Homo sapiens: one gene and its partner. The protein of the gene in region 2 purifies or fractionates together with the protein of the main gene of each other region. This does not show direct contact. Each region holds a gene or a part of one and is shown on either strand. Other genes may lie near its edges.

Region 1 (4,077 bases), on a different chromosome or scaffold from region 2:
AGTCTTGAACTCCTAGCCTGAAGCAATCTTTCCACTTCCCAAAGTGCTAGGATTACAGGCATGAGCCACTGTGGCCGGCCTGTCATTTGTTTTCATTTTAATTGAGCACATTTGACCTCAATTTATTACAATCTCTCTCTCCATTATTTAATTTAGAAAAGCTTCATGAAAGCTTTTTTTAGTTAAAATATATGTAACATAAGGCCGGGCGTAGTAGCTCACGCCTATAATCCCAGCACTTTGGGAGGCTGAGGCAGGTAGATCATCTGAGGTCAGGAGTTCGAGACCAGCCTGGCCAACATGGTGAAACCCCATATCTACTAAAAATACAAAAAATTAGCTGGGCATGGTGGCGGGTGCCTGTAATCCCAGCTACTTGGCAGGCTGACGCAGGAGAATCGCTTGAACCTGGGAGGCGGAGGTCTGCAGGCAGAGTGTTGAGTCACATGGTAACTATATATTTAACTTTCAGAAACTAATGATTTTCCACAGCAGCTGCACTACTTTACATTCCCACTAGCAAAGCACAAAGGTTCCAATTTCTCTACATCCTTGCCAACACTTGTTTTTTTAAATTTTTTTATTTTTTGAGATGGAGTTTCACTCTTGCTGTCCAGGCTGGAGTGCAATGGCACAGTCTTGGCTCACTGCAACCTCCAGTGCCCGGGTTCAAGCGAGTCTCCTGCTTCAGCCTCCCTAGTAGCTGGGATTACAGGCACCCCCCATCCCACCATGCCCAGCTAATTTTTTGTATTTTTAGTAGAGATGGGGTTTCCCTATATTGGCCAGCTGGTCTCAAACTCCTGACCTCAGGTGATCCACCCACCTCGGCCTCCCAAAGTGCTGGGATTACAGGCGTGAGCCACCACATCCAGCCTCTAGTGGCTGTTTCTATATCCTTTGAGAAACATTTATTTTTTTGATTCCAAAGTCAGAATTAGATATATCTAATATATGTATTAGATATATGTATATCTATATTATATACATAACTTTCTATTGCTGTTTTTTAATTGTTCCTTTATTGTAATTGAGACGAGGTCTCACCGTGTTGCCTAGGCTGGTCCCAAACTCATGGGTTCAGGTGATCCACCCACCTCGGCCTCCCAAAATGCTGGAATACAGGCATGCACCACTGTGCCCGGCCCGCTTTTCTGTGGCTTCTACTTCAGATGCACTCTAGAGCTCATCCATTCCATTTTCTGCCTTCCCAGATTGGAACCAACCAGATGGCTGTGTGTGCCAAAGCACAGAACAAACCTTTCTATGTGGTTGCAGAAAGTTTCAAGTTTGTCCGGCTCTTTCCACTAAACCAGCAAGACGTCCCAGATAAGTTTAAGGCAAGAGTTTTACATATTTGAAGGGGTACTAAAGTCTAAACAGAAACCTTTGGAAATTGTAGTCCTAAGAATGTTCCAGTAATTTTTTCACTTCCTATTGCTACTTTCCCCAACACTTGGAATACAAAGATAAATTGGTGATTGGACTCACACATTTGTCCCTAGAACTTCAGTCTTTCAGTCTCTTTAAGTAGCACCATAGATGGGTGGAGAGGAAGCCCGAAGCTGGTGGGTAAGTCCCAGCTTTGGGCTTAACTGAGCTCAGCTCCCATCACCACAACTTACAAACTGTGCGAGTTGAGGCAAGTCCTTTCATTTCAACCTCTGAACCGGTTTTCTTGTCTGTAAAATGGCATAGCAGTATCTGACAGGGTCATGAGGATTCTAAGATAATCTTAGCACAGTCCCTGGCACGCTGCAAGCTCTCTATTGTGACTCTCGATCTTCCCTTGAGAGGTCTGGAGAAGTTAATCCGGCATGAGAATGAGGGGACATGGGATTTAAGTTTGTTACACTACAGCTCTCAGCCAGCACACTGCCATGATCTGGCTCATGGCCACAACTCTGCCCTCGTCTCTAGTGTCCTGCATAGCTTAGTTTCTCCCATTTTCAGAGAGCAGTCTCAGGAAGTAGCACACTGATCACTCACACCAAGGCCCTACCAGGTCAGAGCACTAAATATTCAGTGCCGACTAATGTGTACTTCTCTCCTCAGTATAAGGCAGACACTCTCAAGGTCGCGCAGACTGGACAAGACCTCAAAGAGGAGCATCCGTGGGTCGACTACACTGCCCCTTCCTTAATCACTCTGCTGTTTACAGACCTGGGCGTGCTGACACCCTCAGCAGTCAGCGATGAGCTCATCAAGCTCTATCTGTAACCTGTGAGCCCTTTCCTGCCAAGGTGCAGCTTACGTAGTTGAGGCAGGGTGAGTAGCTGCTTGACACCCCAGTGAGTCAGGCCAAAACTGAGATGTGTTTAATGAAGATTTATGGAGTAAGGACTTAAAATCATACATCTTGGAGAACCTTTCTTACTCATTTCAGTCCCATCTAAAAATGTGTCAGCTATTCTAAATCCCAACTTAAATTGTTCTTACGGTTTCTAGAAACTTTCCTTTTCAGTTTCCAGAAATACAAGTTAGATAATTGGCTACTTAACTGATGAAAGATGAGCCCAAGTCCACCTGTCTTCATCCTCCCCTGCACTCCAGACTGATCTGCCTAAAGCACGCGAGATGCAGGCGAAAAGCAGCCACACCCCTCTGCCACAAATGACCAACAGCTGGTCAGGACGTTACACGCGGTGCCTTGTAAGAGGCAAGAAACACTTGCTGAATCTGCATCTGGCTTCCAGTGGTAAGCACATTCCTCAGCAGGATCAAGCCAAACAGTAAAAACTACCAAGAGAACACGAGGAAGGCAGAAACGATGTTTAGCAACAGTATTCTGCATGGTTCACTGCTTAAGAAAATGCCTTCTGGAATATTTGTAAACTGAAATTCTGTATGTGTAAGAGATGTTTAAATATGTTTGGGTCCTAAACAGCTTTTTAAAATTATACTTGGGAATAAATTCAGCATCTTTTCAAATAAACTCTATGAAAGACGCTGATGTGGTGTTGCATCAATACTGCAAGCTGACCAGGCCATCTAGGGGAAAACACTGTCCAGCTACATTTACACACTTAAGACCCAGGCAATCAGGACACCATTTATTCAACAGGAGGCATAAAAACTATAATTCTCTTTCCCGGAATATGACTTAATCCCTCTGTTTTTCAGCTATTCACCAATAAAACAATACTGTGACTATTAACACAGAAAAACCCCAGCACATTAGCCACCCCTGCAGGACATCAAAGGATAACTGAAGCCCAGGGCCAAGCACATTCAGGAGGTCAAATGCCTGAAGATACTGAGGAATGGTTTTGAAAATCAGAAGTCAAGAAGACTTCTGTATCTTTATGTTTAAAAATAACTATAAAATAGCCTCAGAAAAAAGAGCTTATATATATATATATATATATATATATATATATATATATATATATATAATATGTACATATGTCTATATGTGACCCATCATGATAAATACTGACATCTATTATTTACACTCAAATAATTTTACATTTTCTTCTGTTAGACTACTCCAAGACTGGAATTGTTTTGTTTTGTTGTTTTTAATGAGAGGGTCTCGCTGTGTTCCCAGGCTGGTCTTGAACTCCTGGGCTCAAGTGATCCTCCTGCCTCAGCCTCCCAAAGTGCTGGGATTATAGGCAGGAGCCACCGCACCCGGCCAAGACTGGAATGTTTTTAGTAAAATATTCTGAAGTGTGAAATCCTTCATTTCTCCCTCATCTGAAAGGACAGCTTTCAGAGACATCATTCTTTTCAGATGTCTCCTGAAGTTGTGATTTTCGTTAAAAGCAAACTGGAGCCATCCACCAAGTTAGGGAACAGCTATGTCCTTGTGGGTTCATCTGTGGCACTGGAATCAGCAGTCATCTTCCAAATCTGAGATCCCTAAATCCACTGTCTTGATTGTTCTTTTGCCAGTTGTCAACAAGCCCTTCTCAAATTCTTCTTCAGTTATTTTGCCTTTCTTAAGTTTTTTCAAGAGTCTTGTGTCATTAAGAAGTTCTTCCATGTCCTCATCTTCAATATCAGAACCCTAAGTGCAGAAGAAACCAATAAACTACTAAATTTTTCAGCAATAGTGTTGTAGTGAAACCAGCA
Region 2 (7,296 bases):
GGTTTCACCATGTTGGCCAGCCTGGTCTCGAACTCCTGACCTCAGGCGATCCACCCGTCTCAGCCTCCCAAAGTGCTGGGATTACAGGCGTGAGCCACTGTGCCCGGCCTCAATCCCAATTTTCAACAATTTCTTTTATATTATTCTGCGCTCCACTGCCACCCTGGTCTACACCTGCAATTATATTTTCACAGGGTTCTACCAGGAGCAATGTCAATAACTAATCTTTTCATTATCTCACCTCTGTTATCCTTGAATGCCACCCCAATGTAGTTCCCTCAATTATTTATCTTTTCCTATCCTCTTTTTTTTTTTTTAATACAGAGTCTCACTCTGTTGCTTAGGCTTAGGCTGGAGTGCGGTGGTGCAATCTCAGCTCACTGCAACCTCTGCATTCCAGGCTCAGGTGATCCTCCCACCTCAGCCTTCCAAGTAACTGGGACTACAGCCACATGCCACCATACCTGGCTAATTTTTGTAGTATTTTTGTAGAGACAGGATTTTGCCATGTTGCCCAGGCTGGTCTCGAACTCCTGGACTCAAGCGATCCACCTGCCTCGGCCTCCCAAATTGCTAGGATTATAGGCGTAAGACACCGTGCCCGGACTCTTTTCTTATTCTCATCTAAACCCTTTACTGCTCTGCATTTCCTTTTCCTAGTCTTATTATTCCTCCCTCCCAAAACCTTCCTCCTGGGCCTACTATACAATACAGAGTTCCTTTATACCTTCAGCCTCTTTACTGTCCCCCTCTCCACCCCCTGCCTTCATTAAGGCCTGGCTTATCTTTGAGGACACTGCTTCTCCTTCAGTGGAAGCTATTTGTTCCCCATATCTCACAAACTTCAAGGTTAAAAGGAGGGGCTAGCAAGAGACTCCTCATTAATGCTGTTTGCAGACAATTCTCTCTCAAAGTCATTCCTTTCCTGAGGCTTTGCCATCTGGCCACTCTATACTCTGCTCCTTCACCTTCTCAGGGAAGCCTCCTCTGTATGCCTATGTTTACTTCATCAGAGTAATGATTACAGAGTATTTACCTGCTTATTATGAAGTAAGTACTGCAGATATCCCCATGCTGAACAGAACAGGAGGAACCTGCTGACCCAAAGGCCAGAAGTTAGCCTTCCTGAAGATCTTAGCCTTTCCCTGGAGCCATAGAGGCCCTGACTATGGACCAGGCCCCCTGCTTCCCTTTTTGCTGCACCTGAGTACCCTAGTAGTCTCCCTTGACGTGCCAGGTCTTGCTCAACCTTGGGAATGACAGGGATTCTTAACAAGTTACTATGTACCTAATGAAGAAACAGACAAGTGGCTCAGTCTGTTTCTAGGACAAGAGCCCCATGATTTTCTAACTCATGCTCTCACCTGTCTGTTTGCTTCCATGTAGAGTCCCAGTGTGCTCACTCGAGAGCAGAGCCCCTCTTTCATGATGTGGACATAGCAGCGCACCTGTGATCTGGACAAGTCTTCCCACCTGTCTCCTCGACAGGCATTCCAGCAGGCATCATAGGGAGCCAGGTTCAGTGTATTGGCTTCTTTTATAAAACTGTAGATATCTTCAGAACAAACACCCAACCAAGGAAATAAATGAGAGAGAGATAACAGAACAGATACAGACTCAGTCAAGTTGTTTTTTTGTTTATTTAAGAGACGAGGTCTTGCTATGTTGCCTAGGCTGGTCTCAAACTCCCAGACTCAAGGGATCCTCCCACCTCAGCTTCCTGAGCAGCTGGGACTACAGGTGTGCACCACCATGCTTGGCTCTAAGTTTTAAAAGAGATTACAGCTCACACTTCTTCCTTTGAAACTCACCCACAAAACATGAACCCTGAGGAAATCCCACTAAAATCTGTAAGAGAAAGTCAAACTAAAAGAGGAAATGTACTTCCCTAAAATATCATATGATATAAAAATGCTTAATACGAGGTCCTAAAAGCATGTGACCGGTAATCAAGACCACTAGGGAAAATAAAACAGATGACCCTTGTAAATCATGAAATAACACAAGCCAGCATCCAGGCTTTAGTGGCCAGCCAGGTTGACTTTGTGCTGCTAGTCTCTATTACCATATCTGGTAGCTGTGCTATGACAGAAAGTACAGAACTTGGAGCCCAGAGTACCAGGGCTCTAGTTTTTCAGCTCTTACAACGATCCTTTGAGATCTTTTACTTTCTCATAAAAAAACTGGGGCTCAGAGGACTGAGTAACCTGCCTCAAGACACAATGCTGGCCGGGCACGGTGGCTCATGCCTGTAATCCCAGCACTTTGGGAGGCCGAGGCGGGTGGATCATGAGGTCAGGAGATCGATACCATCCTGGCTAACACAGAGAAACCCCGTCTCTACTAAAAATACAAAAATTAGCCGGGCGTGGTGGCGTGTGCCTGTAGTCCTAGCTGCTGGGGAGGCTGAGGCAGGAGAATGGCGTGAACCCGGGAGGCGGAGCTTGCAGTGAGCCGAGATTGCGCCACTGCCCTCCAGCCTGGGCGACAGAGGGAGACTCCGTCTCAAAAAAATAAAAAAAAAAAAAGACACAATGCTAGTAAGAGGCAGTCAGATTTCAAATCCAGAACTGTCTGATGCCCAGTTCTACAGTCCTAATCATCATGCTGTACTGTCAGTGTATTCATTTGATAAATACTTTTTCAGAATATCTACTATGAGTCCACGACTGGGCCGGGGATTAGGGATATGACAGCAAACAAGACAGATCCGATCTTCAGATCCTGGCACGGAGACACCTGGGTTGGCCTGTGGTTGGACTGCAATTGTACATTCCTTCACTTTCCTTCCCTTGATAAAAGAGGTTGAGTTTAATCAGGAACGGGGCTGCCTAGAGCCTAGAGAACAGGGGAACTAAGAAGTGGCAGGTGGAGTTTAAAGGCAAAATGGTCTAGTGAGGAACACAGCCAAACCAGAGCTATGAATCAGAGAATGGGGCTGGAGGCATGATTAGCCTGTTGCCGAGAGCACAGTGGCAGAATCTGCCTGAGCAAGCTTACCCAGAGCTCAGTGGGTTGGCAAGCCTGTCTTGCCTCGTAGGCTAGAAATAGTCTGCTGCCTTGAGTCAGGCATCTTGGGCTGGGCTAAGCTGCCCAACCACTCTTTCCAAAGGTGCTGCTACCCTTGCCCCTCTTACTGAACCAACCCAAGAACTGACCTAAGGACTTCAGCTCCTTTTTCTTTAGATCCTCCTCTTTTTCTTCTTGTCCCTGTTGTGAGGAAGCTGAGGAAAACTGTTTTCTCACTAAATATGGAATCAGTTCACTCCGGATAGAAGTTATTGACCTAGAAAGAAAGAATGGCCAAATATGAGAAACCTGACTGTCTGGAACATACCCGGATCAAAAGCTCTGTGCATACAAGGAAAAGCCAAATCCTTTCCTGTCATGGCACCTTGGGACTGTCAGAGATCAAATGTGGCATTGACTTGGCAGTTCGGAGAAGCAGAGTGCTTCCTGGTGGGTACTGAGACAGGATGTTGGGTCTAAGTGATCAGGAATCTGTACTAGGGGAAGAAGGGACCTGATCTTTAGTTCAGTGTGTGTTTTTTATTTATGTTTTTATTTATACTTAGCAATGGAAAGCAGAGAGATGAGAAACTAGCACATGTTTTTCAGTGTTCTCTCACACTGTGACCTTATTAGAATTTTATATTGCTAATTAATTTATGTAGCATTTACCAAGCATATGCGAGTTACTGTGCTAGGCCTTGGAAATACATCATTTCTGACTTCAAGGAATTCATAATCCAATGGACAGTAGCCTGTATGAGTTTAAGAGGAAAAGCAGAAGGTTAAGCTAATCAGGTAGGCAAGGGGGCCAGATCACGAAAGCTTTTTGTGGTGAAACCACCTTTGCAAAAATAACAGTGACAAAATTATGACAGTGAAAGAAATCTGACCTAATCAACTCCATCTTGCTGTTAACCTCCAAATTGCTCTTGCTCATTCCTGGACATAGGCTGAGCTAACTTTGGGAGAAAACTTTTTTTTTTTTTTTTCTGAGACAGGGTCTCACTCTGTCTGTTGCCCAGGCTGGAGTACAGTGGTGCGATCTCAGCTCACTGCAACCTTTGCCTCCCAGGTTCAAGTGATTCTCCCACCTCAGCCTCCTGAGTGGCTGGAAAGCTGGGATTACAGGTGTGAGAGCCACATGCCTGGCTAATTTTTTTTTTTTTTTTGAGACAGTCTTGCTCTATCGCCCAGGCTGGAGTGCAGTGGCATGATCTCAGCTCACTGCAACCTCTGCCTCCTGGGTTCAAGTGATTCTTGTGCTCCAGCCTCCCAAGTAGCTGGGACTACAGGCACATGCCACAATGCCTGGCTGTTTTTGTATTTTTTGGTAGGGATGGGGTTTTGCCATGTTGGCCAAGCTGGTCTCAAACTCCTGGCCTCAAGTGATCCGCCTGCTGCAGCCTCTTAAAGTGCTGGGATTACAGGCATGAGCCACTGTGCCTGACTTTTTTTTCTTTTTCTTTTTTTTTTTTTTTTTTTGAGATGGAGTCTCGCTCTGTGGCCCAGGCTGGAGTGTAGCGGTGCGATCTTGGCTTATCGCAACCTCCACCTCCCAGTTCAAGTGATTCTCCTGCCTCAGCCACCCAAGTAGCTGGGATTACAGGCGCCGGCCACCATGCCTGGCTAATTTTTGTATTTTGAGTAGAGATGGTGTCTCGTCATGTTGACCATCCTGAGGTCAGGAGTCTTGAACTCCTGACCTCAGGTGATCCGCTTGCTCCGGCCTCTCAACATGCTAGGATTACAGGTGTGAGCCACCATGCCTAGCCAGAAATTTATTACAGTTTATAGTTTAAATGATAATAGCCCTTCTCAAAATGAAACTGCCTTTATAAAACTAATAAAAGCGTACAAATTTAGGATTACAAGAGGGGCCTGAATTCTCATGATTACCAATCATTTTTCCAAAGGTCACAAGATTTGCAACTTCCCCAGTTACTCCTGTAAGTAACATCACTATTGTTGAACCTAAGATTGGCTTTTTAAGATGTCTTTTCTGACTTTTGCATTTCTGATGACTGGATGACTCCACTGGGACCAGTGACCCCTCTGTGGCCCCCATCCAAAACTGGGCTCAGCAGAGGACTGGTTTCCACACCCCTATGATTGCATCCCCAACCAATCAGCAGCACTCATTCCCTAGACCCCTGCCCACCAAACCATCCTTGAAAAACCCTAGCCTCAGAATTCTGGGGGAGGCTGATTTGAGTAATAATAAAATTCTGGTTTCCCGTTTAGCTGCCTCTATGTGTATTAAACTCTTTATTGCAATTCTCCCATCTTGATAAATCGTCTCTATCTCGGCAGCAGGTAAGATGAACCCACTGAGGAGTTACAGTAGCAGTCTAGAAAGTCTGGACTGAGAAGCCAGTGGTAATTTTTCCTTGTTAGACGGGGTCTTGCTCTGCTGCCCAGGCTGGAGTGCAGTGGTGCAATCACAACTCACTGCAGTCTTGACTACCTGGGCTCAAGTGATCCTCCTGCCTTGGCCTCCCAAGTAGCTGGGACCACAGGCATGTGCCACCATGCCCAGCTAATTTTTTTATTATTTGTAGAGGCAAAGTCTCACTATGTTGCCCAGGCTGGTCTTGAACTCCTGGACTCAAGCAGTCCTCCCACCTCAGCCTCCCAAAGTGCCGGGATTACAGGTGTGAGCCACCGCACCTGGCTGCCAGTGGTAGTTTTTAAGCAAGAAAGTGACATGAACAGTTTTATCTCTTATTAAGGTAATTCTGGTAGCAATGTGGAAGAAAGCCTGGAATAAGGAAACTGAAGAAAGGGAGACCAGTTACAATATTCTGAGAGATGAGATAATGAGGCCTGAGAGAGGGGTGAAAGTATGGGCAGCTCTATAAACCTGACTTGCTGCATACTTCCCACCACCTCTCCCAGCCCCCATTCAAAGCTCTGCATGCTGACACAAAACCAAACAGATGGAGTGTAGGTAGAAAGGAAGGCAAGACAGAGGCAGAGGCTGAGGAGGGTAAGGAAAACTATGAACCCTGGAGCTACACAGTTCATAGTTTCTGCAATTTTTAAAGAATCAATTTTGAAAAATTCTGTGTTAAGCTGTGAGCTCTTGTATTGAATTTCAATGTGATTTTTCTCCTGATCCTTTGATGAAGATTTAAAAATTTCCATGTGAATACAAAGAATGAAGCAACACTTACTCTTAGCTCTTTTTCTCCCCTTTTAATGCTTCAAACCAGTGTAGGCAGCAAATGTTCCTCCTCCATTGGAAAACAAGTCAGTTCCCTTTGAAGAAGTGACAAAGCACGGACAGCTAGGGGATTTCAGGGCCATGATATTTACATTACAGACCAAAAAGAACTGTCACTGCAAGAGGCAAGCAGACGAGCCTTGGCACATGGCCCCATCAGGCAGAACCTTCGAGAGGATCCATGATTTGAAGAGAGGCTATGAAACAGCCCTGCCAGGTCCCACCCACCTCTGCTGGAGCTCAACATTAGGTCAATCCCCATGATGCAGTTGACTTAGAAACATAATGAAGGAAACAATTACTCTTCCTGCTTCCTAGTTAAAGTGCAGGCAGCTCAGAGCTGTGCCAAGAAATGTTACAAAGCTACAGTGAACCATTGTGAACATCCTGGGCCTAGGCCACTTGCTGGATACAGTGCCCTGGTCAACCTTACTTTCTCCTTTCCCTCTTATACACAGCCTTCCTAGAAACACCTGTCTTATCTCATGAAATCATAAGCTCTTCTCAAGCAATCACAAAGGAGAACAATAGACTTGACTACTAGCAAACAATCCCACCAAATAAAAAGACAAAATAATTGCTATGAATAGGGCAAAGAATATTCTTAATAAACAGATATGTGTTAAAAAAACATATAAAATATTTTCAAAGAAGTAAAAAACTAAAATAAGATGCAATTTCTCCTCCAACTAAATTAACTGATTCAAAACAATTTTCATTACTGATAAGAGTGCTTTGAGAACCGTTACTGTCACATAATGGGAGTCGGAGTATAAACTGATAAAATCTCTGAAAAATAATTGGCAACATTATAGCAAAAGACTTGAAGATATTCATATAATTTCACCCTGTAATTCCATTTCTATAAGTCTATCCTAAGGAAAATATATTACTCAGTAAATATTTGCTGAATAGATGAAATCATCAGATTATAAACAAGAATCTTTCAAAAAAAGGTATTCCCGTTATTTATAAAAATGGAGAACAATAAAATATTCAACAATGATAGATCAAAATACCTCTATAACAGAATGTCATATAGGCAAAACTGTGACTGTAAA

Evidence for each region.
Region 1: the proteins of EIF2B3 (region 2) and EIF2B1 purify together in Homo sapiens (affinity purification with mass spectrometry; 8 studies listed by BioGRID and IntAct, with this or other methods). This does not show direct contact.

Annotation. Positions count from the first base shown.
Region 1 is NC_000012.12:123,619,899-123,623,975, reverse strand, and holds the end of EIF2B1 (translation initiation factor eIF2B subunit alpha), read left to right. Parts: intron 1-1,214; coding exon 1,215-1,340; intron 1,341-2,055; coding exon 2,056-2,220; 3' UTR 2,221-3,570; downstream 3,571-4,077. Other genes in the region: ATP-dependent RNA helicase DDX55, read right to left, coding at 3,836-4,012.
Region 2 is NC_000001.11:44,878,454-44,885,749, forward strand, and holds part of EIF2B3 (translation initiation factor eIF2B subunit gamma), read right to left. Parts: intron 3,287-7,296; coding exon 3,159-3,286; intron 1,556-3,158; coding exon 1,365-1,555; intron 1-1,364. UniProt on the Homo sapiens protein: Acts as a component of the translation initiation factor 2B (eIF2B) complex, which catalyzes the exchange of GDP for GTP on the eukaryotic initiation factor 2 (eIF2) complex gamma subunit.